Linked DNA regions of Homo sapiens. The protein of the gene in region 1 interacts with the protein of each later gene in a pairwise test. Each region holds a gene or a part of one and is shown on either strand. Other genes may lie near its edges.

The links.
Region 2: the proteins of BCAR3 (region 1) and CASZ1 interact in a two-hybrid assay, tested with the Homo sapiens proteins (one large-scale study listed by BioGRID and IntAct).
Region 3: the proteins of BCAR3 (region 1) and PSMC3IP interact in a two-hybrid assay, tested with the Homo sapiens proteins (one large-scale study listed by BioGRID and IntAct).
Region 4: the proteins of BCAR3 (region 1) and ATAD2 interact in a two-hybrid assay, tested with the Homo sapiens proteins (one large-scale study listed by BioGRID and IntAct).
Region 5: the proteins of BCAR3 (region 1) and AGR3 interact in a two-hybrid assay, tested with the Homo sapiens proteins (one large-scale study listed by BioGRID and IntAct).
Region 6: the proteins of BCAR3 (region 1) and DKK3 interact in a two-hybrid assay, tested with the Homo sapiens proteins (one large-scale study listed by BioGRID and IntAct).
Region 7: the proteins of BCAR3 (region 1) and GREB1 interact in a two-hybrid assay, tested with the Homo sapiens proteins (one large-scale study listed by BioGRID and IntAct).

What each region holds. Positions count from the first base shown.
Region 1 is NC_000001.11:93,563,780-93,567,124, forward strand, and holds part of BCAR3 (breast cancer anti-estrogen resistance protein 3), read right to left. Parts: intron 1-3,345. UniProt on the Homo sapiens protein: Acts as an adapter protein downstream of several growth factor receptors to promote cell proliferation, migration, and redistribution of actin fibers.
Region 2 is NC_000001.11:10,793,428-10,798,251, forward strand, and holds the start of CASZ1 (zinc finger protein castor homolog 1), read right to left. Parts: upstream 3,220-4,824; 5' UTR 3,137-3,219; intron 1-3,136. UniProt on the Homo sapiens protein: Transcriptional activator. Involved in vascular assembly and morphogenesis through direct transcriptional regulation of EGFL7.
Region 3 is NC_000017.11:42,574,549-42,579,264, forward strand, and holds the start of PSMC3IP (homologous-pairing protein 2 homolog), read right to left. Parts: upstream 3,182-4,716; 5' UTR 3,139-3,181; coding exon 3,105-3,138; exon of another isoform or gene 3,014-3,104; coding exon 2,913-3,013; intron 2,755-2,912; coding exon 2,665-2,754; exon of another isoform or gene 2,532-2,664; intron 1-2,531. UniProt on the Homo sapiens protein: Plays an important role in meiotic recombination. Stimulates DMC1-mediated strand exchange required for pairing homologous chromosomes during meiosis.
Region 4 is NC_000008.11:123,393,484-123,398,145, forward strand, and holds the start of ATAD2 (ATPase family AAA domain-containing protein 2), read right to left. Parts: upstream 2,965-4,662; 5' UTR 2,875-2,964; coding exon 2,704-2,874; intron 1-2,703. UniProt on the Homo sapiens protein: May be a transcriptional coactivator of the nuclear receptor ESR1 required to induce the expression of a subset of estradiol target genes, such as CCND1, MYC and E2F1.
Region 5 is NC_000007.14:16,871,857-16,875,903, forward strand, and holds part of AGR3 (anterior gradient protein 3 precursor), read right to left. Parts: intron 1,988-4,047; coding exon 1,924-1,987; intron 1-1,923. UniProt on the Homo sapiens protein: Required for calcium-mediated regulation of ciliary beat frequency and mucociliary clearance in the airway. Might be involved in the regulation of intracellular calcium in tracheal epithelial cells.
Region 6 is NC_000011.10:12,002,026-12,006,072, forward strand, and holds part of DKK3 (dickkopf-related protein 3 isoform 1 precursor), read right to left. Parts: intron 413-4,047; coding exon 275-412; intron 1-274. UniProt on the Homo sapiens protein: Antagonizes canonical Wnt signaling by inhibiting LRP5/6 interaction with Wnt and by forming a ternary complex with the transmembrane protein KREMEN that promotes internalization of LRP5/6.
Region 7 is NC_000002.12:11,613,690-11,617,736, reverse strand, and holds part of GREB1 (protein GREB1), read right to left. Parts: intron 2,647-4,047; coding exon 2,447-2,646; intron 1,107-2,446; coding exon 1,017-1,106; intron 1-1,016. UniProt on the Homo sapiens protein: May play a role in estrogen-stimulated cell proliferation. Acts as a regulator of hormone-dependent cancer growth in breast and prostate cancers.

The DNA.
Region 1 (3,345 bases):
CCTCTCGGGTTCAAGCAATTCTCCTGCCTCAGCCTCCCAAGTAGCTGGGACTACAGGTGTGTGCTACCACGCCTGGCTAATTTTTTGTATTTTCAGTAGAGACGGGGTTTTGCCATGTTGGCCAGGCTGGTCTCGAACTTTTGACCTCAGGTGATCCACCCGCCTCGACCTCCCAAAGTGCTGGGATTACAGACATTAGCCACCGTGCCTGGCCTATCATTCTTTTTAGTTGTAGCCATTCTAGATAGTGTGGTGGTATCTCATTGTGGTTGGTTTAAATTTACATTTCCCTAATGATGAATGCTTTGAACATCTTTTCATGTAGTTGTCATTTGTATGCCTTCTCTGATGTAGTGTCTATTCAAATTTTTGTCTATTTAAATTTTATCTTCTCACTGAGTTGTAAGAGTTCTTTGTATAGCCTAGATGTAAGTCCTTTATCAGATATATGTGTACTCAATGTTTTCTGCTGTGGTTCATGCTTTTTGTGTCCTAAGAATTTCTTTCTTTCTTTTTTTTTTTTTTTTTTTTTGAGATGGAGTTTTGCTTTTGTTGCCCAGGCTGAAGTGCAATGGTGCAACCTCTGCCTCCTGGGTTCAAGCAATTCTCCTGCCTCAGCCTCCCGAGTAGCTGAGATTACAGGCATGCGCCACCACGCCCGGCTAATTTTGTATTTTTAGTAGAGACGGGGTTTCTCCACGTTGGTCAGGCTGGTCTTGAACTCCCGACCTCAGGTGATCCGCCTGCCTCAGCCTCCCAAAATGCTGGGATTACAGGCGTGAGCCACCGTGCCTGGCCAAGAAGTCTTTACTTAGCTTAAGGGCACAAAGAATTTCTCCTATGTTTTCTTACAGAAGGTTATACTTTAGCTCTTACATTTTGGGTCTATGATCCATTTTGGATTATTGTGTATGGTATGAGGTAAGGATCGAGATTCACTTTTTTGCATATGGATATCCAATAGCAGATACCATTTGCAGGATTATACTTTATCCAGTGAATTATTTTGGCACCTTTGTTGAAAATCAACTGTCAGCCATATGTGTGGGCCTATTTCTTAACTCTATTCCATCTAAGAGAGGATGTGGTCTGCTTAAGGCCAAAGATGTTCAGGCAACTCTTTTAAAGAGAGAGAAGCCTCTAGCCAAAGAGTCATGTGGTTCTCATCCTTTATTATTGCTGGGATAGTTTGTTCTGCCATTAAATATACCTGCCATCTAGATCACAGGATCTTGGTTGTAGAAAGGACAACAGGAATATTTTCTTCCTGATGATGCCAGAATATCCTTGGTGGATAACCAACCAAAGGCCAGATGGTGACTTTTTTTTTTTTTGAGACCAGGCTGGAGTGCAGTGGCACAATCTCGGCTCAATGAAATTAAGAATCAAGGAGAATCGCTTGATACTCCTGCCTCAGCCTCTCAAGTATTCCCTCTCAAAATTCCCCGGCTAATTTTTGTATTTTTAACAGAGACGGGGTTTTGCCATGTTGTCCAGGCTGGCCTCTAAGTCCTGACCTCAGGTGATCTGCCTACCTCAGCCTCCGAAAGTGCTGGGAATACAGGCATGAGCCACTGCGCCCGGCCCCCAGATGGTGACTCCTATTCATACATGCTTTGAGCCCCTTCCCATTCACGTGGTCTGGTCTATGCTGGTGAGCAGATCTCTGCCTTTCCTGGGTTCACTGTCACTTACAGCAATGGGTACTTGCTGTGAAATCTATATTAGGATCGACTGAAAAATTCCATCAGTGACCTTTAAAGTGATTTAAAGCTGTAGAGCAGCTTATGGCACACTTTTCTCAAAACCCACCCTGATGTATTGGCTTATGCAACATCCATGGTAATGTATTCATTGGCTTTGTCTAAGTAGGCACTCTGATACTTGTTGACTTGTGTGCTTTTATTGTTTGAGTAACATACAGCCAATCCTGGAGAACTTTTTGAGGAAGAAAATGAAACAGGTATGCGGTGCTTATACCCACAGCAGATGGTGCAAACGACTAAGTCCCACATCTGGTTCTGAGGCAGCTCCCTTTTAGAATTAAATAAATGGAGTCTCCTGCCCCCACATAGTTCTTAACTTTGTGAATCAAACTGTGAGCCCTTGAAGAATTTAAAAAATTATATAGTAATGGAAAATAGTCATCCTTGATGACTGCCTTGGCAAAGCCCTCCTTCCTGAATGGTCTTTCTGCCAGCAAACCTTCAGCCTTCCAGCCTTCCTCCACACAGACACCAGAGTAATTTACTTTAAAACAGAAATCTGACCATGTGACACCCTCCCATGATTAAACCCTTCACTGGCTCTTCTTCAGCCACGGTCTTATGTGGAAGGGCTTCCCAGCTGCACCTCCCTCTGTAGCCTAGTTGGCCATTCCTTAGGTCATACTTTGCACAAATCTAAACCCAAGTACTTGTGGATCCCAGTTTTCCCCAAGGTCTCTCAGCGCCTTTGCTTGGGTTGTGCCATCTGAGTGGAATTCCCAGCCCTGCTTGCTGGTAACTGCTTTTGTCCTTTAACAATCAATGCAGTGTTTTCTGGGAAGCTGTCACCAGGTGCTTCCTCTTTCCTAACATCTCTGACCAAATCAGTCCCTTCCCCTAAGTGCTCCCACAGTATACACTGCATTTATCGTACCTGCTTAAATTCCTCAGGACATCCAGTTAGCACGGTGCCGCGCGCATGCCACATGTGTGATAAATGCCGGCCGTGCTGACTGAGGAGGCTGCTTTCTGTCACCATAGCACTTGTAAGAAAAATCCGTTTACGCAACACTGCCCCACACTTTCCAGGATGTGTCTGATGCTAAGAGCAGGGGAGCTCACTTCCCAGTGTGACTGGGAAGGAACAGGAATGCAGATAAATGAGGTCTGGATAAAACTCCACCTCCTCATCTTGGCACATCACCTTTTCTAATCTCACCTATTAGAGGTACTATTAATAAGTGGTAGGCAAGTTGGCCAATTCTTGTTCTGTTGCCCAGCGCCCAGGCTGGAGTGCAGTGGTGCGATCTCGGCTCACTGCAACCTCCGCCTCCCGGGTTCAAGTGATTCTCCTGCCTCAGCCTCCTGAGTAGCTGGGATCACAGGCACACACCATCACGCCCAGCTAATTTTTGTATTTCTATTAGAGACAGGGTTTCATCATGTTGGCCAAGCTGGTCTTGAACTCCTGACTTCAAGTGATCTACCTGCCTCAGCCTCCCAGAGTGCTGGGATTACAGGCTTGAACCACCACGCCCGGCCCCAGTTCTTTCTTGACCCCTTCTCTCTGTTTATTCTATACCATTGAACAACAGAACACACAAGGAGAAACAGGGCACTTGAGTCATTCTGGAATTAA
Region 2 (4,824 bases), about 83 Mb from region 1:
GTCTCGGCAAGGTGCAAAGTCTAAAAAACAAACAAACAAGGCAAGGGGAAAAAAAGAGGAAGGCACTGCCCCTTTAAACGTTTTAGTGCATATGGAGTTTGATTTCTGAAAGAGATCAGTTTAACATCTCCATAGAAACCAGCAACAGATTATCATCAACAGAATAAATAACTAGTCTAATAAATTAAACAGGAGGCATAAGATCGCTGGAAACCTGATTACTGAAGTTCAACAATATTCCCCATAAACTCTCCTTAACCGCCTCTAAGGTGGCTAACAAGAAGGGGGTGGGTGGCGGGGGGGCGGGGCGGCGATCTCTCCAATTCGCCGGACTCTGGGGACAGAGATGGTGGCTACCTCCTGGAAAGGAGAAGTTCTCCACTCTGCCCTGAAGAGGGTCCAGGAGCTCCCGCGAGGGGCACACCCTAAAAACCGAAGTTTGGGAAGTGGGAAAGCGGCTGGGGGTCGGGGGAGTGGCGCGGGCGGCCGGAGATTGCGCAGGTCGCGACGCCCGCCCGGGACGCACCGCCTGGTCGCCACCAGGACGCAAACCCGGCGCTTTGCGCTCGGGCGCCGAACGGCCCAGCGCCCCCTCCGGGCACGTGGAGCGCAGCCCCGGCTCAGCCCCCGGGGAACAACTACCCCCCTCCCCATGCCCGGCGCAGCTGCTCCTGCTCAGCCGGGACAGCTCCCTTTAGGACGGCGACGTGTGTGTGTGCGCGTGTGTGTGCGTGTTTGTATGTGTATGCGTGTGTGTGTGTGTGTGTGTGTGCGCGCGCGCGCGCGTCGTGGGTTGGGCGGGGGGACACCAAGATTATCCGGCGATCTGTTTTCCAGTCCCCTCGTGCGCTCTCACCGCGCGCCTGTACCAGCTCGGAGACGTCCTAAATTTACTAACTTTGCCCCGCGACTACCAGGGCCTTTTCCCCCTCGCCACCCCCTGAGTGTACCGGGTGTCGGCGGGACAACTACGCACAATGAGGGCCGCACCCCCACACTCCACTCGGTCAGAAACGCACACTCCGCCCCGTGGCCCAGTGATCCAGGTTTGGGGGAGCTCCATACTCAGGAGAGGCGCTACTGCCGCTTTTCCGGTGGGCACGCACCCGCACCCGCACCGTAGCCAGCGTGGCTGGAAGGAGGTCCTCGCCGCGCCCAGAGCCGGCTTTCCAAGCTGAAGCTGGGGCAGAGGAACTTGTGTGGAGGAAGAGGGGGTCCCCTGCCTCCCTCAGCGCTCCACTAGCCTCCCCCAACTCCGGACCCGGGTCGGGGATGACTTGGAAGAAGAATCTGCGCCCACCCCTTAGAGAAAAATCTATTATTATTATCTTAATCTACGCCCCCAAAGTGTCCCTCCAGCCGTGATTGACGGCGCATACACCTGTTCCCTTCGCGGAGGAGCTTCCAGCGCCGGGGACAGACATTCGCCCAAACGCTCCGCAGCGGCCCAGCAACCGCCCGCCCGCCCGCGCCCGGCCAGCCCCCGCCAGCGGCCCCAGCGCGCCTCTGCCCGCACCTCGCCACCCCGGCGGCCGCCCCCTCCCCTTCCAGACCCGGCTGCCCGGCCCGCCAGCTCCCGGCAGTGCTGGCTTCGGAAAGAGAGAGAAAGAACAGAAAGCAAAACTTCCTGGCGGCCGACGGCCATCAGCTGCACATTCTGCAAATGCCACCGAGTAAAAATAAACCGGCCGCCGCTCCGCCCGTCCGGCTCACCCCGGGCGCACGAATCGGCCCCCTGCCCCGGGAGATCCCTGACTCGGTCTGGCCCGATCCCCCATTCCCGCGCGCCCCCTGGATCCCCGCTCCCCGACGCTCCTCCGTCAGTCACCACGCTCTCCTTTGCCGTTAAGCCGGACCCTAAGTGACCGGGAAACCGGCTCTCTCCCTTTGGTGTTCCCTGCGCCCCCACAAACTACTTTTTTCTCTGTCCTTCACCAGGTGCCTATTTCAGCCCTGTGCCCTTGGATTCAGGGCTCCTCCTCCCCAATTGTTGAGCTCCGAGGTCACCCTCAGCCCACCCTGGGGGAACAGACCCCGACCGACCCTCTCCCACGCTGCAGAGCCCCCCCGGAGCGCACCACTCTACCAGCCCGCTAGCCCGCCAGCCCAGCGTCCCACGTCCCCGGGCGCAACTTCTCTTCTGGCGCACACAACAGCCGGCAACAACTCGCCCGAACTTTCCCCGGGACCCAGGCGGGCTCCAGCCGACAGCCGGGCAGCTCTGGGCCGATGCCCCGGCTCCCCGTGCCCTGTGTTGCCAGCCCTTCAGCTGGGGAGGCAGGGGGTGGGGTGGGGAAGGGAGTGAGGAACGCCACTTGCCGCGCCTGGAGCAGCGCACTTGAGATAAACTTCCCAGGCACAGATGAAAAAGGGGGCGCCGCTCCCCCCATCTAAGAAATCTCTTGCCTTCGATTTCCTATGGGGGATACCCTTTGGCACCCCGCGCCTAAGCGAACACTGCCTACCTCTGCTGGCAGCACCTACACCCGGTATCCGGGCACAAGAGCCGGCTGGAGGGGTTCCCCACCCACCCCTTCCCATGGGCAAAGTCTTGCAAAGTCACCCCAGGCACCCCTCACCCCGCCTCCTTCTCTGCCCTGGAGAGCGCACGACCCCTCTGCTGCTGGGGGGTGGGGTGGGGTGGGGGTTTAAGGGGAAGGAGTGATTACCCGGTATTGGAGATCACCTGCCCCCCCGGGAGCCCACAGCGCGTGGGGCGCCCCCACCCTATTTGCAAAGTCCTGTGCTCGCGCCTGGCACCTCCCTCTCTTCTCCCCTACCCCGCCACCCCCTCAGTTGGAGTAAGCGACCCCCAGGAGGAGCAGCCCTCCCCTCCCCCGGAGCCGCGCGCCGGGCATTCCCCTGGCCACGGCAGGCAACGCGCCGCCCCGCGCCCGGGTGCCAGCCCTCCGTGCCCCCTGCCTCCGCACGGCCGGAGTTGGGTGGCAGCCGCCGATCGCAGGCTGGCTGGCTGGCTCGCTCGCTCGCTCGCTCGCCCGCTCCCTGCTGCAAGCGGCAGCCCCGGGGGTGGGGGGGGTGCACCGGGACAGGGGGAGAGACGGGGAGGCGCCCCGGGAGGCCCGCGGAGCTGGGGGACGTGGGGGGGCCGCGGCGGAGGGAGCGCCGAGTCTCTTACCTGCACTTGGGGCGGCTTTGGGTGACTTTCCAAGTCCGGGGGAAAAATGTGTGTGTGTTTGGGATGGAGCGCCGCGGGCGCGCATGCGCTGCCCAAAGTTGCCGGATCCCGGATTTTTCGCTCCCAGTCTCCGCTCTCGCCCGCTGTGATTATGGAATTCTCCGCGGCCGGGCGGGCGAGTGGGTGGCATGCAAAACCCGGGCCGGATCGCGGGGCCGGGCTCCGCTCCACCCTCACACCCCCAGACCTGCCCCTCCCGGATCCTTCCCACCCACCGCCCGGGCTGAGCTCAGCGTGTGCGCGCGGCGAGTCGCACGGCCTGCGGAGGAGCATCTGAGCGCTCGGCCCCCTTTTGCAGGTCCAGAGGCTTCTACACCCCCCCCCAGCTGAGTTGAGTTGAGGCTAGGGGAAAAGAGAGAAGGGATGGGGGGGGGGGTTACTTTCCACCTGTTCTGAACCCCGAGAGAGCCCGAGTTCGGTTCCCACTTTCGACAGAAGAACTGGCTCTTTTTTGCAAGTTAGAATGTTAGAACTGTGGAACCCAAAGGAACGAAATGTTCTCACTGTTTGATATCTGCTTTGCACTTATTCTTTGCAAGGGAGTTTTTCATTCAATCTATTGTGCAAGAAATAAATCCTTAAGTGAGCAAGATAGGCCGTGCAGAATGAACCTTACATGGAGGGGCTGGGGGGGGGGCAGATAATACACATTAAAACAAGTGGATAATGTTATTTCAGAGAGTGAAAGTATCCATGAAGAAAATAAACCAAGGCAATAGGCTAAAAAGTGTCTTGGGGGCCGGCATGGTGGTTTACGCCTGTAATCCCAGCACTTTGGGAGGCCGAGGCAGGAGCATCGGTTGAGCCCAGGAGTTCGAGACCAGCTTGGGCAACATAGCTAGACCTCATTTCTGACAAAACAAAACAAAGCAGTGTCTTGCGAGAGATAATCCCCTTGCCCCCAGATGGGGGGGAAGGGCCTTTTGAGGGGCACTTTCATACTTTATTGAAGAAACCCCCTTTTCTCCCATACCCAGACTTCCCATTTCCCAGTTGGTTTGAGGTGGCCACACCAGCTGAGCCTAGTAGTCAGCTTCAGTGCTGAGGCCCTGTAGCTCTGGTCTTGCCTTTCTCAGCAAGCGCACCCCTCATTCCAGGCCTGAGCTGCTTTTCCCTTCAGCATAAGCGTGGGATGGAAATATCGAGAGGCATGAAAGAAACTGAAAACACCCAGATGATGAGATAAGTGAGAAACTGACCATAACAGTAAACGAAATAGATCAATGATTTGTGGAATAAATGAATATAAATTCAAAGTATGACCCACAGCTTCAAGCCCTGCTCAACAGAATGCATTAAACTAAGAGGCAATGCCACAGGCTGGTAAACATTGTTGCAGGCTGGTAGTATTTGGAGCCTAATCTGCAAGGTGTCAGGAAAGCCTCTCAGGACCAGAGAAACGACCCAAAACCCTGTATGATGATTGTCTAAGACAAGCATCTTCCGGGATGCATTCCCATGTCCTGCCTTAAACTGGAAGTTAATTGTCCAGAAGCATATGGACACAGACTGGAGACATGATGGCCCTCTGGCCCTGAGGAGGCCAGGATTTGCCCTGTGCCCTAATAAAGCCAACAAATTTGGGAGAGGAAGCTGAGCCATCCCACACTCCTTAGATACTCAGTGAT
Region 3 (4,716 bases), on another chromosome or scaffold:
CTAGATCATGGGTTTCCATAATAGATAGAAACTGGACAGGTGAAGAAGCATGATGGATGGGATGGATGGACTTCTTTTCTTCTTCCTTCCTGTCCTTTCTTCCCATCCTTCTTTCCACCTTCCTCTCTCCCTCCTTCCTTCCTTCCTTTTTCCTCCCTCCCTCCCTCCTTCCCCCTCCCTTTCCCTCTCTCTTTCTCTCTCTTTCTCCCTCCCTTCCCTCTTTTCCTCTCTTTCTTTCTCTGTCACCCAGGCCAGAGTGCAGTGGTGCAATCTTGGCTGACTGCAACCTCCGCCTCCTGGCTTCAAGCGATTCTCATGCCTCAGCCTCCTAAGTAGCTGGGATTACAGGCGCGCACCACCAAGCGCAGCTAATTTTTGTATTTTTAGTAGAGAAGGGGTTTCACCACGTTGCCCAGGCTGGTCTCAAACTCCTGGGCTCAAGTGATCCATCCGCCTCAGCCTCCCAAAGTGCTGGGATTACATGCATGAGCCACTATGCTGGGTCTTGGGATCCATGTAGATAAGGGATTCCAGTAAGTCTGAGGAGCTTCTCTCATGAGGGGCCATTGCTAGAAAAGAACTGCACTGGGGATCAGTGTGGGGGTGGGGGAGGTCACATCAGTTGGTGATGGGGAGCAGGTTGAAAAAGTATGCCAGCCAGTGCAGTCTGGACTCTACACTTGGGCAAGGTGAACCTATAGGGCAGAGGCCAGCAAACTATGGCCAGCAAGCCAAATCCTGCCAGATGCATGTTTTTGAAAACAAAATTTTATTGAAACAGCCCCACCCGTTCATTTACATAGTCTACAGCTGCTTCTGTTCTACAGTGGCAGAGGTGAGTAGTTGTGGCAGTTGTACAGCCAGCCATGACAAGAGATACATATGGCCCACAAATCCTAAAAATACTGTCTGGCCATTTGCAGAAAAAGTTTGCCAAACCCTCCTTTAGAGAATTATCTTTAGATGAGTAACACAATGCAGCCTGTTTTAGGAAAGTCAGCCTTAAAAGTGGTTTGGTTCAGTTTAACGAGTAATATCTGCTGGATGTTAGATACTGCGGAGGTGCTGATCAGATAAAAATGAATTGAGAAATGGGGTCTGCCCTAGAGGAACTTCAGTTGAATAAAGGAGACAAGTAAAAATTGTAATACAGCATGCCTCAAAAGAGGTAAGGGCCAGGCTGGGCACAGTGGCTCATGCCTGTAATCCCAGCACTTTGGGAGGCCGAGGCGGGTGGATCACGAGGTCAGGAGATCAAGACCATCCTGGCTAACACGATGAAACCCCATCTCTACTAAAAATACCAAAAAAAAAAAAAAAAAAAAATTAGGCTTCGTGGCGGGTGCCTGTAGTCCCAGCTACTCTGGGAGGCTGAGGCGGGGGAATGGCGTGAACCCAGGAGGTGGAGCTTATAGTGAGCCGAGATTGTGCCACTGCACTCCAGCCTGGGTGACAGAGCGAGACTCCGTCTCAACAACAACAACAACAACAATAACAAAAAGAGATAAGGGCCTGAAAAAGAAACAATTAGCTCGGAGCATTCAAGGAAGATTTCTGGAAAAGGTGATGTCTAAGTGAAATCCTCAAGGAAAGAAAGAGCTGGCCAGGAAGAGAAGCAGGTACAGGGAAGACAACATGCAAAGGACAGAGCAGTAAAACACACCAGAATTATCTAGTGTTCGTGGATAGAAAAATAATGAGGATTGGTGAGGCCAGAGGCTGGCTGGGGCGTCTTCCGGTGCCTTTTACATGTTTTTTGCAGCACTAGAGAGCCATTGAAGAGTTTTAAATAGGGAAGGTGCATGACCAGATCTATTTAGACAGATCATTCTGACTGCAATGTTTAAGAGTTTAAGATATGTTTGAAGAGCCAAGATCTGTTAGGAGGATACTGCAACAAATAAAGAGGGCGTGAACTAGAGCAACCATGGCAGATGGAAAGGAGAGTGGATTCAAGAATGGAAAAATTAGCCAGGCTCTGTGGTTCACGCCTGTCCTCCCAGCACTTTGGGAGGCCAAGACAGGAGGATCACTTGAGCCCAGGAGTTGGGACCAACCTGGGCAGCACAGTAAGACCCATCTCTATAAAAATTAAAAAAATAAATAAAAACGGAAAAATCAGCTGGACTTGATGGTTGACTAGTAAAGGAAGTCAAGAATTGCTCCCAATTTCTGGTTTGGGTGAAGAGTAATTCCATTAGGGGAGGAGAATGTTAGAAAGAAACCAGTCCGGGGTGGGGGGAAGATGAGGCATTCTACTGTGGCAATTTTGACTCTGATATTAATGCCTGACAGATTCCAGCTGGAGGTCTGGGCTGGAGAATATAAATTTGATATGTGTGTTTAGAGAATCGGATGGAGGCAGGAGGAACATCATTTGGCAGAGGGTGTTGCTAATGTAGATGATAAGGAATAAGAGCTTTGGAGCGGAAATGGATCTTGGTAGCAACAATACAGAATCTTCTGTCATCCATCATATTGTAAATCTGGAAACCTCGTGAAGTTGGGATCCTAACAAGAGGAGTACACACCTTGATTTAAGGATGGTGGCCTAAGACAGGTGAGTTTTCCATGGGGGGCCTTGTCCCCAAAGAGTTCACACCAGGAGTAGATTCACCCGTTGTCGGGCTCTCATGGGTGACAATCGGCGCAAGTTCTCCTCACCTGATCCGCAAAATAGATCTTCTGCTTGCCGTACATCTTCTCTTTGATCTTGCCTTGTTGCGCCAGCTGCTCCAGCGTCTTCACCACCACCTGGCAGAGGAGAGAGAAGGAGCAATCAGAGGAGTCTGAGCCTGGGTCTGGGGAAATCCAGCCAGTGATGTGGAAAACGCCCAAGGCTCCAAAGGGCACGACCCCAGCCTGAATCCAGGGAGTCCGACGGAGAGGGAATCCCGGGAGAAGGTCCTCACCGCCTTGCCCAGTCCGTGTTCCCGCTGTAGGTTCCCGAACACATCCTGGGAGCTGTAGGGCCGGTTCTGCTCCTGCAGGTACCTCAGGAGGATCCCGGCGGCTACGGAGAGAAAGGCAGGGGAGGGGGCCACTCAACCGACCTCCTCACCCACTGCCCTCCCGGGTCTTCCCCGCGCCCACGGCGCCGTTACCTCCCGCCGCAGCTTCTGCCCGGCCTTTACTCATCGCCTTTCCCGCCACCCAACTCAGAAAGCCGGACGTTGTAGTTGCTCGGGGCGACGGCTCCTTCCGGCGACGGGGGCGGGCCTCGAACGGTGATTGGCTGAAGGGGAAGCCTTCCGGAGGAGCAAAGCGACCCCTCCCGGACTCCATAGTTCATTTCAGGTCGGAACTTGCGCATTCGGGCCGGACCTCAAGCCATGGGCCTCTGCGAAGGCGCCGGCGTGCCCACGGCTAAGAAACTTCCTCTTTCTGCTCCCGGGAACGAAGGCTGTAGCAGAGAAGGCCTTCAAGTTTCGAGACCCAGTTCCAGCCGCAGCTGAGCACTGGTGACCTTGAATTAAGTCTAATGTTGGGATTGGAAGACGCTTCAGACATCCGCTGCCGCCCTGGGCAAGCGACCAGCTCAAGGTTACCCCACAGGGACGTGCTCTGGTCCCACGGTCCAGTGCTCTTTTGTCGGTTAGTTTTGTCATTTGTAAAATAGGAACAGTAGATAGTGGTAGGAAAGTGGTTGTGAAAACTTAATAGAAAGCTAAGCGCCTTGGTCGGGCGCAGTGGCATGTCACCCCTGCAATTCTATCACTTTGGGAGGCTGAGGCGGGCGGATCGTTTGAGCCCAGGAATTCGAAACCAGTCTGGGCAATATGAAACCCCATCTCTGCAAATAAAGTACAAAAAATTAAGAGTGGTGGCGCGCTTCTGTGGTCCCAGCTACTCTGGAGGCTGAGGTGGGAGGGTCACCAGAGCCCCGGACATCGAGGCTGCAGTGAGCCACTATGAGCGCGCCACTGCACCCCATCCTGGCGACAGAGCGAGACGCAGTCTCGAACAAAAAAAAAAAAAGTGGGAAGGGGGGACAGCTAAGCGCCTTGGAGAGCAACCACCCTTATTTGCCTAATACCGAGCTTCGCACCCAGGGGGCACTCGACACCTACTGTAGTTTGGACGCCAAGGAACGATAGGGTTAGGAGGGGGCTACTGTTCAACCACAAAGCTTGTGGAAAAGTTTGTTAGCCCAGACAATCTCAGGGCAACACCTGGCAGGTGCTTTCCACCCCTGACCACAGTGGCCAATGGGACAGAGCCTGAAATAAATATTTCTAGTTTCTGAGGTGAGCTGAAGGCCAAAGAGCAGCTGTCCCTGCAGCTCAGACCATCCAGTGAAGGAGTAAGGTGCTACTTTTTAAAGCCTTCTGCTACCTACAACCTCCTTAGCCTTTAAAACGTGTGCTTGTCTCTGCACGTTTAGGAGACAATATTAAGAATTAGAAATGAAAGGGCCGAGCGCGGTGGCTCACGCCTGCAATCCCAGCACTTTGGGAGGCCAGGGCGGGCGGATCACGAGGTCAGGAGATCGAGACCATCCTGGCTAACACTGTGAAACCCCATCTCTACTAAAAATACAAAAAATTAGCCAGGCGTGCTGGTGGGCGCCTGTAGTCCAAGCTACTCAGGAGGCTGAGGCAGGAGAATGGCGTGAACCCGGGAGGCGGAGCTTGCAGTGAGAGATCGCACCACTGCACTCCAGCCTGGGCGACAGACCAAGACTCCGTCTCAGGAAAAAAAAAGAAATTAGAAATG
Region 4 (4,662 bases), on another chromosome or scaffold:
TGGGTGACAGAGCAAGACTCTGTCTCAAAAATAAATAAATGCATAAATAAAGAGAACTGACTGTTGAGGGAAGGTGGGGCATAATATATATATCAAACAGTGGAAAACGGGAAGGAGGCCAATCAAGAATCTATTATAATCCAGGAAAGATGGTCAGGCGCGGTGGTTCATGCCTGTAATCCCAGCACTTCGGGAGGCTGAGGTGGGCCGATCACCTGAGACCGGGAGTTTGAGATCAGACTGGCCAAAACAGTGAAACACCGTCTCCACCAAAAACACAAAAATTAGGTAGGCGTGGTGGCGCATGCCTGTAATCCCAGCTACTTGGAAGGCTGAGGCAGGAGAGTCACTTGAACCCGGGAGGCGGAAACTGCAGCAAGCCGAGATCACGTCACTGCACTCCAGCCTGGGTGACAGAGCAAGATTCTGTCTCAAAATAATAAATAAATAAATAATCCAGGAAAGAGATTATGGCTTGAACCAGCATGGCAACACTGGAGGACATATAAAGTGGTCAGACTTGGAATATATTTTGAAAGTGGAGCCAACAGAATTTGCTAATGCACTGGATGTGAGGAGTCAACAACAACCTAAGGTTTTTTTTCCTGAGGAACTGAAAAAAAAAAACGGAGTGGCCATTAACTAAAACTGACGATGGTCTTAATAGCTGACAATGACTGAATCCTAACCATATGCTAACTGTTCAATTAATCTCCTTACATACATGATCACATTTAATCCTCACTACCAATGTGGTGGGTATCATCCCATTTAACAAGTGTAGAAACCTGATGATTATTGGTAAACCTGAGAAGCTGAAACTGAAATTCATAATTAACAGTTTTCTTAAGAGTCTATGTATTTGGCCAAGCAGGGTGGCTCAATTCTGTAATCCCAGCATTTTGGGAGGCTGAGGCAAGTGGATCACCTGAGGTCGGAGTTCGAGACCAGCCTGGCCAACATACAGAAACCCTGTCTCTACTAAAAATACAAAAATTAGCCCAGCGTGGTGGTGTATGTCTGTAATCCCAGCTACTTGGGAGGCTGAGGCAGGAGAACTGCTTGAACCCGGGAGGTGGAGGTTGAGGTTGCGGTGAGCCGAGATCACACCAGTGCACTCCAGCCTGGATGAGAGAGTGAGACTCTGTCTCGAAGAAAAAAAAAAGAGCCTATGTATTTAACCAGTATTCAATATATCAGTACGTATCATTATGTTCACAGGATCTAGTGTTACCCTGGACATAAATAATCAATCAGTATTGAAACACATTTTCTGAACACAGGTTAAGTCAAGTAACCAATTCCAGTGCAGAAGTGTTTGGCCTCTCCAGGTCTCTGCCAATTCCTGGCAGATGACTGAGAAACAAATCTTTAAAGTCAGGAAATTACTTGTCTTTTCAATTCAGAATCACAATTTCAGAGACTGAAGGGAGTGTAGTTTTTAACCCATTCCCCTCAGTAGAGTAGCAACCAGAATGGGATGCCCACAAAAGATACTGGCAACTAATTTTATATAGTTATCTAAATACAAGATCTTAATAGAAGACTTAATACAAGACCCTGAAATCGTCTGCTGAACTGAAGAGGATTACATTGTCACTTCCACCACACATTTCCCCTGAGCCTCTCATTCTCATTCCCAAGTTCCCAACCTTCTCTCAGGTCCTATTTTTCCTACTCCATGCCTACCCTCACTCACTCCAACACCTTCAGTCCAGCTATATATTACTTGCTGCCTTAACTAAATTTACTAGCGAGCTTCCCCGACTTCTTCAACCTTCTGTGAATGCTGAAACCCCTCCACCTAGGCCTCTTTCAGCAGCTGGGGTGGGGAGGTGGATGGGAGGGGAGTAACTGCTCAGCTTTAACTCTGCCCTGCAAAAACCGTCACTGCACTTCAGACCTAGAAGCAGCACTTCTTTCAAGAGGACCCTCCTTCCTTCCAAACTTCCCCTATAGACACTGCTTGTAACTGCAGCATGACGGCATAGAAAGGGAACGATTTAGGAGGCAGGCAATCTGAGTTCCAATTTTAGATCTACCCCTTACTGTTTACCTTTTTGAATCCGTTTCTTCATCTGTCAAAGAGATAGCACAACTACGCATTCTCAAAGGGTTATGACGAGGCTTGGAAGCGGGGGGCGTACATGAAATGTTGGTCTTCATCCCTCCACATTATGCAACCTGGTATTATTCACTGCGCTGTTATTACGGAACTCCTCTGGATCGTTAATGGAGGTCAGAGAACCTGAATTACAACCTGTCTGTCCCTGTGCCCCCTCCCCCCCAACGTTTATGGCGCAGACAGAAAGCAGTCAGGGGATGCGTGTTGCCTCCAGGTTGATGCGAACCTAGGGCAGGAGCCTGGGCGATCGATCGGCCAGGGAGTGGGGGGTCGTGCGGGCGGCCGAACAGCCGCGGCTTGGCCCCAGACCGCACTCCGCTGTGGCGGGCTTCGATTTCCTCTTGCGTAAAAGTAGGTGGTGACCAAATGCTTAGTCCTCTCCCGGCCAGCCTCAGCTCAGCGATCCGACCCGCACCTCCGATCCCGAGAGCTTCCATTTTACTCGTCCTCGACCACACTTCTCCCCCGACAACTGTCACCCTGACCGGCGCCGCCCACCCCCAGGCCCCTCCGAGCGCCGGGCTGCCGGCAGTCCCCCCGGGAACCGCCCTGGGAGCCCGCCTCAGGCCCGTACTCACGCCCGCTTTGGCTGTGGTCGCCGCGGGTTTCTTCTGCGCCGCGCCGGCCGAGCGGAGCCGCCTCCGGCCGATGTGCTCCAGACTGAGGAAGTCACTGGACAGGTCCAAGGAGCCCGTGGCCGAGGCCGCGGAGTGGTTGTGCAGCTCCAAGCTGCTGCGGAGAACCACCATCTTCTCTCCCTACTGGCCTCGGCGTGCGCGACCGGAGAGAGATCCAGCTCCAGGCGCTCGCAGCTCTGGCTCTTCCGCGCTCCGAATTCTGGCGCCACAAGCTCCGCGCCAGCGGCCGCAGCGCGCGCGCCCAGAATCCCTCCGCCGTCTGTCCCGCCCACGCCACCACCGTAGAACAGCAGGCTCGAAACTCTCCTCCCATTTGTAGAGCGAAGGAGGCCGGGCCAACGTGGAGAGGAACACAGGCCGACAGTATAGAGGACCTGAGCGGAGAGTCCTGGGGAAAACGCTGACTTCTTTTTCTTCACATAGTTCCGGCTCGCTGAGCTCGGCGGAAGGAGACGGTGGGAGCGGTGCGTAGCCCGTTTGGAATTTTGGCGCGGGACGGCGGCGGGGGAAGGGAGGCCTCTGCGCGCTCTGATTGGCTGGTGGGGTCCGGCGTCTCCTCCCCACCCCTGTTGACACCTGCTTGCTGCTTCCCGCCATCCAGGATTCAAATGCAAAATGCCCAGTCCTTGACTGGAGGGAAATAAAGCACTTGGCCTTTGACAGGTTTTGACTTTGAGCCTTAAGAACTTTTTTTTTTTTTAAATAATTGAGGGCTTGACGAAAACAAGTTAACCACCAAAAAGAAAGAAAACACAAGGAGCTAAAAGCGAGCCAGCAGAGTGCCATCGTTTAGTTAAGGACGCGGGTTCTGTACCCATCTTTGCCATTGATCATCCCACATAGAAGATCTCGAACAAATTATTCACCTCCCTGCATTCTAATTTCCTCACACGCTGAGGCAGGAGAATCGCTTGAAGCCGGGAGGCACAGGTTGCAGTGAGCCAAGATCGTGCCACTGCACTCCAGCCTGGGCAACAGAGCAAGACTCTGTCTCAAAAAAAAAAAAAAAAAAAAAAAAGAACCTGTTTCAAAAAAAAGAGCAGGACTCCCAGTTAAATGTGAAGTTCAGATAAAGAACAAATACTTTTTATACGTATCTCGGAATGTACATATAATCGGAAAGTAACTCCGATTGTAATACCTAAGGCCCTAAAGTACTATTATGATACCTTGGAGCCGTGCTTGCACATAATAAGTGCTCAATAAGCGTTCGCTATTATCACAGAATACAAGAAGATGGCTTCTCTAAGATGGCAGTTACTTGACTACTTTGAAATAGGTAACACGCTGAATGATCAGAATGTCCGAGGGCTCTTAGCGAAATAAACGAAAGCTATTTATTGATTTGGATAACTACAGTTCATTAATTTAATATTTGTTAAATACATATTGAGCCTCTATTATGTACCAGGCATTATTCTAAGCACTGGGGATGCAGCAGTGAATAAAAAGAACAAAAATGCCCTAATGGAACTTAAACTCTAGTGGAAGGTGAAAGACAATAAACTAAATGTAAAAGTTTTAAAGTGGCAAGCATTACAGAGAAATATAAAGTAGGGAAGGGGGAGGGAAGAGTGCAATTTAAAATAGGGTGATTAGGGAAGGTCTGGCTGAGAAGTCTGACAAAGGCCTAAAGGTTAGATGGTTCTGGAAGAAGAGAGAGGCGGGAAGCAGGAAGGGGAGAGTGGCGAGGCCAATGAGAACAGAGCCACTGGGAGCAGGTCCTACGGGACTCTGGGTCTTAGTTTGAAACTTTTGAGGGCTTTTATTATAGCCCCCAAATTCCCATCCAAACCCTGAGATGAAAAGACATCTCAGGGTTTTGAACAGAGGTTTGACTTATTCCGACTTTAAAAATAATCTGCGTGGCTGCTGAATGAAGAATGCAATGTCTGGGGA
Region 5 (4,047 bases), on another chromosome or scaffold:
AACAAAAACCACACACACACACCTAGGAATATATTAACCAAGGAGGTGAAAGATCCCTACAAGAAAAACTATAAAACATTGATGAAAGAAATTGAAGAGAACACCAAAAAATGGAAAGACATCCCATGCCATGGATTGGAAGAATGAATTTTGCTAAAATGACCATACCACCAAAGGCAATCTACAGATTCAATGCAATCTCTATCAAAATACCAATGATATTTTTCACAGAAACAGAAAGAAAAAAATCTTCAAATTTGTATAGAACCACAACAGACTCCAAATAGTTCAAAGCAATACTGAGTGAAAAGAACAAAACTGCAGGCATCATACTACTTGACTTCAAAATATACTGCAAAGCTATAGTAAACAAAACAGCATGGTATTTGTATAAAAACAGAAACCTAGACCAATGGAATAGAATAGAGAACCCAGAAATAAATCCACGTATTTAAAGTCAGCTGATTTTTAACAAAGGTGGCAAGAACATGCATTGGGGAAAGGACACCCTCTTCAATAAATGGTGCTGGAAAACCTGGATATCCATATGTAGAAGAATGAAACTAGACTCCTAACTCTTACCATATGCAGAAATCAATTCAAAATGGACTAAAGACTTGAATGTAAGACCCCAAACTATAACACTCCTAGAAGAAAATATAAGGGAAGCCCTTCGGACATTGTTCCCTGCAAAAAAATGTATGGGTAAGATTTCAAAAGCACAGGCAACAAAAACAAAAATAGACAAATGGGACTATGTCACCTGAGAAGCATCTGAACAGCAAAGGAAACAAAAGCATAAGGGGACAAACTGTAGAATAGGAGAAATTATTTGCAAACTATTCATTCGACATGGGCCTATATCTAGAATATACAAGGAACTCAAACAACTCAACAACAAAAAACCCCAAATGATTTGATTTTAAAATGGGCAAAAGATCTGAATAGACATTTCTCAAAAGAAGACACACAAATGGCCAAGGATATGAAGAAATTCTCAACATCTCTAATCATCGGGGAAAGGCAGATCAAAACCACAATGAGATATTATCCCACCACAGTTAGAACTGATATTATCAAAAAGACAAAAAATAACAAATGCTGGTGAGGATGCAGAGAAGAGGGAATTCTTATACACTGTTGGTAGGAATGTAAATTAGTACAGCCATTATGCAAACATATAGAGGATTCTCAGAAAACTAAAAATATAACTACCATATGATCCAGCTTTCCTACTACTGAGTATTTATTTAAAAAATCAGTATATCAAAGAGATATTTGCATCTCCATATTTATGGAATCACTATTCACAATAGCCAAGATATAGAATCAACCTAAATGTCCATCAATGGATGGATGGATAAAGAGAACATGTTATATATTCACAGTGGACTACTACCCAGACATAAAAATAATGAAATGCTCTCATTCACAGCAGCATGAATGAGCCTGGAGGATGTGTTAAGTGAAATAAGTCAGATATAGAAAGATAAATACCACAAATTCTGACTCATATAGAGTAGCTTAAAAAAAAGTTGTACTAATAGAAGTAGAGAGTAGAACTCTGGTTATTAGAAGCTGGGGAGGGTTCAGAGCTGGAAGGATAAGGAGAGGTTGATTAATAGATGCAAAAATATAGCTAGATAGGAGGAATAAGTTTGAGTAGTATTCTACAGCACTATAGGGTACATACAGTTAACAATAGTTTATTGTATATATTTAAAAAGCTAGTAGAGAGGATTTTGAGTGTTCCCACCAGAAAGAAATGATATGTTTCAGGTGATGCATATGCTAATTACACTGATTTGATCACTACACATTGTGTACATGTATCAGCATATCACTCTATATTCCATAAATATGTACAATTATTATGAGTCTACTACAAATAAAAGGAAAAAAATGAGCTGAGAAGCATGTTACCTTTTTTGAGCATAAAAGAGACCTTCTTCATAAGTTTGTACCCAAGTGATGTCATCTCCCCATCCTGAAATAGAAGAGAGAAATCAATGCAGTAACCCAGAACTAGAGAAGAGCTCGGAAATGGGTATCTAATAATCAGATATCTACCTACAGATATTTAACTAAGCCATCAAGCTGTTGGCTGACATATGGTGCAGAGGACACACAATTTTCACAAGATATGGAGGTGATTTCCCTTTAGATTGCAGTACTGAGGTTTTGCTACTGCATTTCAAACCTCGAGGCCCATGGCCTTGAACCCAGTAAGTACTCAATACATGTTGTTATGATTAGAGCTGATTGAAAGGACATCTTTGGATAATGTAAAAGCTGTGGCTTTAGGAACGCTTGGAAAGTAACAGTTCATCTTTGCATACTTTGTAATATTATTAGGAATCCTTTCGGCTGTACTCTACAATGCCCTCCTATTTTGGGTCCCAAGAGATGTTGACCTCTTCTAAGTCAGTATACGTTGTGAAATAAGGGAATTCCAAGTTTTGCTTTGAATTCTGACATGGAAAAAATTCTTGTGTGGGAATTTCATGGCCAAGAGACATAATAAAACGCATGTGTTTTGGAAACACCCAAAAGAATGGAGAGAAAAAACAGAAAGCAATGAATATAGAGAGAACCCATTAGCCTTAAAGAAATGGTATGAATAGTTGGGAATGTGTATAAGCAATTAAAGATAAAATCATCAAGTAGAAGAATGTGCAGAACCTCCAAAAACATTACTGAGTATTTTCAGGAAGTGTCTCAGTCTACGAATGAGAGAGATTGAATTAATGTGAAAATTAGCAATATTTGGAAGTCAGTTTGGGCCCAGGTTTTCTTGTACATTTCAAATGTTGTCAGACCACAGTTTCTGGCTTTAATATCATGGTAAATATGATAGTAATTTGATAAATATGATTCCATGATTTTTGCTTGTTTTTCATGTTTGTTTTCTGGCGACAGCTTTATTGAAATAAAATTCATACGCCAATACAACTCACCTATTGAAAACGTATACTTTTGGCCAGGCATGGTGGCTCATGACTGTAATCCTAGCACTTTGTGAGACCAAGGTGGGTGGATCATTTGAGGTCAGGAGTTCAAGACTAGCCTGGTCAATACAGTGTAATCTGTCTCTACTAAAAATGCAAAAATTAGCTGGGTGTGGTGGCATGTGCCTGTAGTCCCAGCTACTCGGGAGGCTGAGGCAGGAGAATCGCTTGAACCTGGGGGTGGATGTTGCAGTGAGCCAAGATTGCGCCACTGCTCTCCAGCCTGGGTAACAGAGCGAGACTCCATCTCAAAAAAAAAAAAAAAAAGAAAAAAAGAAAATGTGTGCTTTTTTCAGTATATCCACGAAGTTGTGCAACCATCATCACATCAATTTTAGAACATTTTCATCTCCTCAAAAAGAAACCCTATACCATTTAGCTATCACCTGCTCCCCATTTTCTTCAAATGCCACAGCCCTAAGAAACCCCTAATCTACTTTCTGTCTCTATAGATTTGCTTATGCTGGACATTTCATATAAATGGAATCATACAATATGTAGGCTTTTGTGACTAGATTTTTTCACTCAGCATAACCTTTTTAAGGTTCATCCTTATAGTGCCATGTATTATTATTTAATTCATTTTTTATGGTCAAATATTATTCCATTGTATGAATATACCATATTTTATTTATCTGTTCATCAGTTAATGATATTTGGGTTGTTTCCACTTTTTGTCTTTTATGAATAATGATGCTATGAACATACATATACAAGTTTTTCAGTGGTATATATTTTCATTTATCTTGGGTATATACCTAGGAGTGGAACTGCTGATCAAATGGTCACTCTGTATTTAGCTTTTTGAGGAGCTGCCGGGTTATTTTCTAAAGTAGATGCATCATTTTATATACTCACCAGCAACATTTTTGTTTTTTGTTTTTTTTTGCCTGATTTAAAATCTTAACATTGAAAAACATCTCTTGTTAGTTTAATGCCACATCTTAACAGGAACTCTTGCTCTCTGTAATAATCCTGAAAGATTCTCTTTCCAACTTTGGTTGAACACATGCAATATCTATACATCACATTTTGCATT
Region 6 (4,047 bases), on another chromosome or scaffold:
AATGATAATCCCTGGACATTCCTTTGCAACTGGACTGGCAGGAAGCCTAGGGTTAAATATATTGCTTAAATGCAAAAGCAGTTTAGGATCCTGATACATTGTCTCTCCACTTTCAACAGTAACATTACTCCTTCTGGTTTTCAATCCGTATTTTATGATTCTCAATTGTAGTTTGGGCTTGTATATCACATATGAAAAAACAAAAACAAAAAAACCTTAGTTCTCTGATGGGACTGGACGCTATAGAAAGGAGGAAGTGCTGGCCATGACTTACCTTGTGAATTTCTCGGTGCACATGGATGGTATTATTTCCAACCTTCGTGTCTGTGTTGGTCTCATTGTGATAGCTGGGAGGTAAGTTTGCCAGGTTCACTTCTGATGATGCTTTAGCAGCAGCTTCTTCTGCCTCCATCTATTAAATCGATGAATTTAATGAGCAAAATTATTTTCTCTTGTTACAAATGGGAGTCTATTAGAAAAAAAAAATCTCTTTTCCTCTTCTGCAATTACAAAGAATGATGATGATGATAGGTGCTATTAATTGAGTACTCACTATGATAAGATATTATACTAAACGTTTTACATATATTACAGCACTGAAATTTCACAATCTCTCTGGGAGGTGGGTGTTAATGTCCTCATATTACAAATAGGGAAACTGAGGCTCAGGAAGACTAGATAAATTCCCCAGAGTCCCAGGAAAGGGTGGAGCTGGGATTTGAACATGTTTCCACTAGATAGTCTTGCTCCCTGTGTAAACGCTGTTGATGCCCTGCCCATCTCCTGGTGGCCTAATCTGGAGGTCACCTGTATCCAGTTCCCATACATGCCAACAACCAACTCTGTCTCTCTCTAAGGGCATTCTCTGGTCACCAAAGTATGCTCAGTCTGCAGAGGCCCCAAGTGCTAGGGAGTTAACATCCTAGCAATGAAAGTCAGGCTATGGAGGTAAACAGTCTAGCTTCTCCCTTCGCTAGACAATTCTAAAGCATGTAGAATCTACGTAGTCTCCCTCTAAGGCCTCCAGTGGGATGGAGCCCTAGATGCCCGCAGCAGTAACCTGCTTGCAGGCATACCGTTGATTGTCTTTCTTTTCTTTCATCACACTTTCCCACTTCCTGCTAGTGTTTTCTGGGAGCACATCCCAAATGCACTATTTGCTCTTAAGTCCTTGTGGCAGGACCTGTTGTTGGTGGTGGTAGGGGCAGGGGATGGAGGGAACCTAAACTTACTCCCTGTAGGTAGGGCCACAGCTGTGTCTCCTTCCCCACCCTGCCTCTTGGGTACCCTTGTAGGAAATCCTTGCAGAGGGACCCTTGTAGAGGGTCAGTTAACCAGTTCCCGGGGTCCACACCCCTTCTGGTTTTCTTAGACATATGTTCTTCTCTGGTGTCAGGTTTCTGTGGCCGCTGTCCTCAAATCCTCCAGGCTCATGATCCTCCATAACATCTATACCAGATATGTCAGTGACCTCATATCTGCACCCAACTTCCCCTTCCAGATTTATCACCCTGTCCTGGCCCTGATGAGTGGGCAGTTGACAATGTGACCTGTTCACAGCTGATGGGACCCAAAGGGAGGCCACATCATAGACTAATTGAGCCAATCAGATACTCTCTCTAGGAATTTCAAATGAGAGACATAAAGAGAAGTTCTACCTGATAGTTGGCAATTTTCCAACACTGCTATTTTTGACTATGGGCTATTTTTATTTTTTTTTTTAAAAAAAGAATGCTCAAAAAGTATTTTCCTATTTAAAAAAATCACTGTCCTCTATCCCCTTAAGTACTAGATGAGCCCCTGCTTTAACCACCAGGTTTGCTGAGCTGAGGAGGATAAGAGGAAAGAATCCTCATGTCTCAATGCAACACAAAAACACTAAACTCAAAGTGTGAATAAAACCTGGTAGGCAGAAAGGCTCAACAAGGACTTAGTCAGTGGCCGGATTCTGTGCTGGATTCTGAGATGGCTGCTGAGATGTTTGAAACTTGATCACTGGCTTCATAACAATAATAATTCTAAGAATAGCCCCCACGTTTGGGGCATTGACTATGTCTGAATCGTTGCACCAGATGCCTTGAATATTGACAGCAACCTTATGGGGAAGCTGTGATTATAGAGTCAGGTCCAAAAGTTTAAAAAATTGAAATATCTGGATCCCTTCATGGACCCGCTGAATTGGGATTTCTAGAGATGAGACCCTGATAATACTGAGCTTCTCAGCTTATTCTGAGGATTTCCCTCCCCTCCCTCTGATCCCCAGTTAAGAATCTCCGTTCCAGGCAATAGGGAACTACAGCAAGTTCCAGAAGGCTAGCGGGAAATAATATAAAGAGTAGATCAGAAAGAGAGGGGAGTCAGGAAACTGGCTAGAATTAGGTCTAGGAGATGGGAGCTACTTCTGGGTAGGGACCTTCTAGGTGGGAAAGACTCTAAGTAAGTCTAGAAGGATCAAGCCACTGAGAGATGGCCACTGGATGAGTCAAGTCATTGCCTGCAGCATCCTCGGAGAGGAACACAGTGGAAAGTACCAGGATTCTGGAGTCAGACAAGGTGGGTTCAAGTCCTGGCTCTGCCACAAAGTAGCTGTATGACTTTAGGCAAGATACCAAATCCCACTAAACCTCAGCTTGCTCATTTGTAAAATAGGGATGTCCTACTTTGTTGAGTAGATATAAGAATTAAGGACCATGCAGTAGATATAAGAATTAAGGCATGAAATACACTATCTGCCACACAGCAAAGATGAAATACACAGCTGTTTTTATCCCGTTGCCCTTTAAGAAGGCAGTTTCAAAAGAAGCCAGTTTGTTTTGCCAGAGTTCTGAAGGGAATGGGTAGCTAGAAGCAGGAAGAGCAAACGTTGATATCATGTGTTTGAAGAGCTTGCCAACAAAGGGGAGAAGAAATGGGGCTGAGATAGAAGACAGAATGGGCAAGAAAATGACTTTCCTTAAAAGCAAGAGACCTTGCCCTCAGTTACCACTCTGGTTAGTGATAGAAAAAAACGCAGCTGGGAAGAGAAGACTGAAGGTGCTGGAGAGGACCCACCCAGAAGAAGAGAATGTTTTAGTGTTTTTAAAATTCCCATCGGGATCAGTTTGGCTTTCAAATAATTGACAAGTTGCCAAACCTAGAATTTGCTCTGGGCTGAGCAGATAGTCTTTTTATAAAACTTTTCCCCCCAGCTCAGCCACTGGTTATTTCAACAGAATGAGCTAACGGTTCTTAAATGGCACCATGAACTAAAAGTATAGTTTACAATGGAAATTTCAACCGCAACTATTATTGCCACTAGCAAGAGAAACTTAAGTCTGAAGCAAAAGGAGCTGTTTCGTAGAGGAGGAATGTGAATGCTATTAAAAATGGCACTTATACTAGAAATAGGTGAGGCAGTAAGAACATTCTAAAATGAGTGAGTTACAGAGCTGGCCATGAGGGGAAGAGAAACAGAGTGGTTATATCTTCAGAATACATTGATTGGTAGCATATAGAATAGTAACACAGGAAAGTAGGAATATCCCAGATTGAAGCCATTTGAAGATATGCTTCTTCCAATAATGACCGTACAAGTAGAGCTGCTTTGTCCTTCCCCTTAAGAAACTTCAACAGCTTGATTCAGCTGGAACATTGAAAATGCCAGGAAGTTACTTGAAAGGAGATTCATGATGCAACTATGTAAACAAATAATGCATCTGGCCCAGGTCCTTTTTGATTTTTCCCCTGAACAATGACTAAATACCAATTATCCTGTGTCTATGAGATTTAAGGGGCATTCTGGCAGTCTCCATAAAAAGTTAATACTAATAACCACAGTCTATAAACAATCTATTGTATTCTATTTTTGAAGATATCTAAAAGATACTTTTAGTATTTTAAGATTAATTTTTAATGGTTTAAGATATTTTAAAAGATAGATTCTATTGAGAATCTATCAGACACTGGTGGTGTTTTGTTATCATTCATACTGCTACTAGTAATATGATGATAATGATACCTGTTACTTATTTACAACCAACCATCATGTCATCCTTACAGCCACCTCAC
Region 7 (4,047 bases), on another chromosome or scaffold:
CCCCCGGCCCCAACAACAGGAGCCTGCGGCCACCGCACACACCCGTCCCCGCACCCAGGCCCTGCACGTCTCGCCCCTGAGCCTCTCGGCCCTTAAGGCTTCCTGCACTTGCAACACCTTCCGCAAGGCCCGACTGAGGGTCAGCTGCTCTCTCAAACCTGTGGTAACCTCACCTACCCTGAAATCTGCCCTCTGCCTTGGGACAAAATTACAGACTTCTTCATATGTGAAGTGAAAATGTGTGCAAAAGACTACTGCAAAATAACACGTCTTTTATGAGAACAATGAGTTCGTTCCCTGAGGTCAGGTCTACATCTCATTTATCCTTCAGTGCTGATCCAGATAGCAAGTAGGCCCTCAGAATGCTTTTGGCGGAAAGACAGGGACTGTGCGTGCTGATGGCCGACGGTGGCCCCTGACTTGCCCGGGGCCTCTGTTTCTCACCAGGGGCTCTGCCCTCCTCTGCGGGATCCTGACTACTCTCGGAGACAGAGGAACCCCTTAGGGCAGAGACCGTGTGGAGCCTGTGGTTGGCACTGCCCACCCGCTGTGGCTGTGGCTACGCGGAAGGCTCATGAGCTTGTGTTGCCTTTTGTTGCTCTTCCCCCAGTGAAGTCTCCATGTCTACTTCTCTCCTTGCGCTCAGCTCCTCTCCCCACAGGGCACAGGGTTTTCCCAAACCAACAACGGCAGGGAGAACACCCGGGGACCCGCCCCTAACACGGCCAGGACTCAGCCTGAGGCCCCAGCCACAGTGAGGGGCAGGGTCCACGGTCCTCCCCTGAGCACAGGGGCAGCAGAACCCTACAGTCTTGCTCAGTCTTCAAGTTCTCCGATCCGAAGTTGACCACAATATTTACTCTCTAGAGAGTCTAGCACTTCAAAGATTTCCTTATCTTTCCAGTTCTGATGGAAAATAAAGGATCAGCAAATAGCCCTCTATAGGTTTCTTTTCATTCTCTGAAACCTCAAAAATCAGTCTGCTGGTCTGGTCCTTCCCGTGTGGGAAGACTCACCGGAAGCCTTGGAGGAGAGGGATGAGGATGCTGAGTCGTGGGAGCGGGACCTCTCCCTTTTCATGGGGCTTCTCTTCTCCGAGGTAGAGCCTGTTCCAAAACACACACGCTGAGAATGCACCGAAATCACCATTCCTGACATTTGCCCAGCACTTCACAGTGTGTAAAGTGTGTTCCCATGCATCACCTCTCCCCATCCATTTACTCATTCACTGCCATCTTCCAGGCCCCCACCATGGACAGAGCACTGAGGAGACAGGAGGGAGTGGGCTGCAGTGCAGGGAGGCACTCTGGGTGCAGCGAAGGCTCCTGCCCATGAGGCACAGCTGCAAGCTGGTGGAGGAGATGCAAAGAGAGAGGGGTCGGGGAGCCTGGGGGAAAAGCAGGGCATCTCCTGGAAGAGGGGGGCATCTGGCCGTCGCCCTGAAGGGCCTCAGGGTTTTGCAGGTAAAGTAGAGAAAGGAAAACTCTGAGCAGCAGGAAGGGCAGCCGTGCAGCGCAGAGGCCAGAAGGGCAGGGCACAGCCCGGCCACTGCAAGTTTAACGTGGGCCAGTGCTCAGTGCAATGCGGGCTATGGGTAGAGAGAAGCAGATGGTGAAACTAAAGAAGGGGGTCCTGAGATGCCAGGGAGCACGGAGACGTGCAGCAGATACTCACAAATGAAAGAATTAAATCAGAGTCTCTGCCGTGCTTCGAAAAGATGGCTACAGGCGGGCAGGCCTTTCCATCTACATTTTACAGACGAGCAAGCTGAGGCTAAGAGAGGTCCCACAGTCAAGACAGACAAGGCAGACCACAGACCCGCGCTGGTGCCCACACCCACCTCCTTCCATTCCACACACTCCACAAATGCTTTCTAGTTTTTGAATGACTGTCTACGTCTTTCTCATCACATTGTTGACTATAGTCAATGCCTTGCGATGTTATCATTTATGTGTCCTATTAAAAAGGCGGCATCAGATTTGAAGAGTCTGCAAATGAGCCTGTTTTCACACTTCTTAAAAATGGACAGCACGCTGTTGGGTTGATTCACAGAGGAAATAAACAAGCAAATCACACTAGGTGGGAATTCCACCAGTGAGTGGAACGAGGAACTCTAAGAAATTTTGAACTTGAACTCTAAGAAATCTTAATTTTTCTTCCTATTCTTTAAGAATTCTAGAACTAGGAAAAACCTATAGGGATTTCCATTTTCTCACACCACCAAAAGAGATGGGGAGAAAACAAACAAAATCTGAATTCAGTGAGAGCTCTGCCATTTCATCCAACACTGGAGACCTCTCATCCAGAGCCGCTGTCCAGCAGACAGGTCCCAGGACCCTGCTGAACTGGAGACAGCTGTCTCCATAAGCACAGGCAGCCTCAAAGCTCAGAAGCCAAGAAAGACATGCAGACAGGGACAAGTAGGCTGAGGGCAGCCATCCCTCACCTTCTGTCCCCAGCTCCTCATCCTCGTTGTCTGTGCTGCTCAGCTTCTCAGCATCACTCTCCAAGGCCTCGTTCCTAGCCCCCTTCTCCAAGGGAACCTCGTTGCTCACAAAGTAGGCAGCCAGGCCCAGCTCCTGCTCCAAGGCTGTTCTCACCAAGCAGGAGGAGTTTATCAATCGCAGGTCACAGTACCTCAAAGACCTAGCAAGACACAGAAGAAGGTGTCTGTTTAGTGCCTTCCACAAGTGGAGTGCTGTTCCCACTGCGGCAGGCAGCACTGATCGGGACCACACCCCACCTTCCTGGTGAGGACCCAAGGACTCGTACAAGTGGAAAAGCCAACAGTGTTACTGGGAGCTTGCAGCAACAAATTCAGTATAATAGTAAATCTTTGGGGACACCCACTATGCATTTAGCTCTGTGCTGCACTAACTTTTGGGTCAGATAAAAAAGGGGCTTGCAGCACTTTGGGAGGCCGAGGCGGGCGGATCACAAGGTCAGGAGATCGAGACCATCCTGGCTAACACGGTGAAACCCCGTCTCTACTAAAAATACAAAAAATGAGCCAGGCGTGGTGGCGGGCGCCTGTAGTCCCAGCTACTCGGGAGGCTGAGGCAGGAGAATGGAGTGAACCCGGGAGGCAGAGCTTGCCGTGAGCCGAGATTGTGTCACTGCAATCCAGCCGGGGCGACAGAGCCAGACTCCATCTCAAAACAAAACAAACAACAACAACAACAACAAAAAGGGGGGGCTTGAACCTGAGCTCTGCTACTTCCTAGCGACAGAAGCCGTGACAAGCTGCACAACTTCTCTGAGGCTCTGATTTTTTCATCTGAAAGATGGGAATGAATATTAATAACCATCTGGCTGGGCGTGGTGGCTCACACCTGTAATCCCAGCACTTTGAGAGGCGAAGGCGGGCCGATCACTTGAGGTCAGGAGTTCAAGACCAGCCTAACCAACATGGCAAAACCCCATCTCTACTAAAAATACAAAAATTAGCCGGGTGTGGAGGCAGGTGCCTATAATCCCAGCTCCTCGGGAGGCTGAGGCAGGAGAATCACTTGAACCCAGGAGGCGGAGTCTGCAGTGAGTTGAGATTGCACCACTGCACTCCAGCCTGGGCAACAGAGTGAGACTCCGTCTCAAAAAAAAAAAAAAAAAAATCTAAGTCCGCTGTGATAAAGATTAAATGTAATCAGTGAGCATTTAATTATTCAATCCAAGTGAACACAGGCCAGGGTACTAGATGCTAGAAATATGATGGCAATCAAGTCGGACACCAACAAGCAATGCTATCTGTGAGCAGCAGAGGAAAGGCCAACCCCGTGCTCAGACTTGCGCAGCAGAAACACAACCAAGGCAAAGGGCTTAGAGAGGGGTACGTGAGGGTTCCAGTGGGGCTCTGAAACTTACTGCTCATGACCTCAAGCAAATGATCGTTCATTGACTCAACCATGAAACAGGATGGTAATACTACTGCAGCAAGGAGTAAGTTTCATATGAAAAGTCTATCATGATGCCTGGTACAAAGAAGGTACCAGAAGGTACCTGGTATTCAGCAAATGCTTGCTAAAATTTAAAATAGATTAAGACATTGTC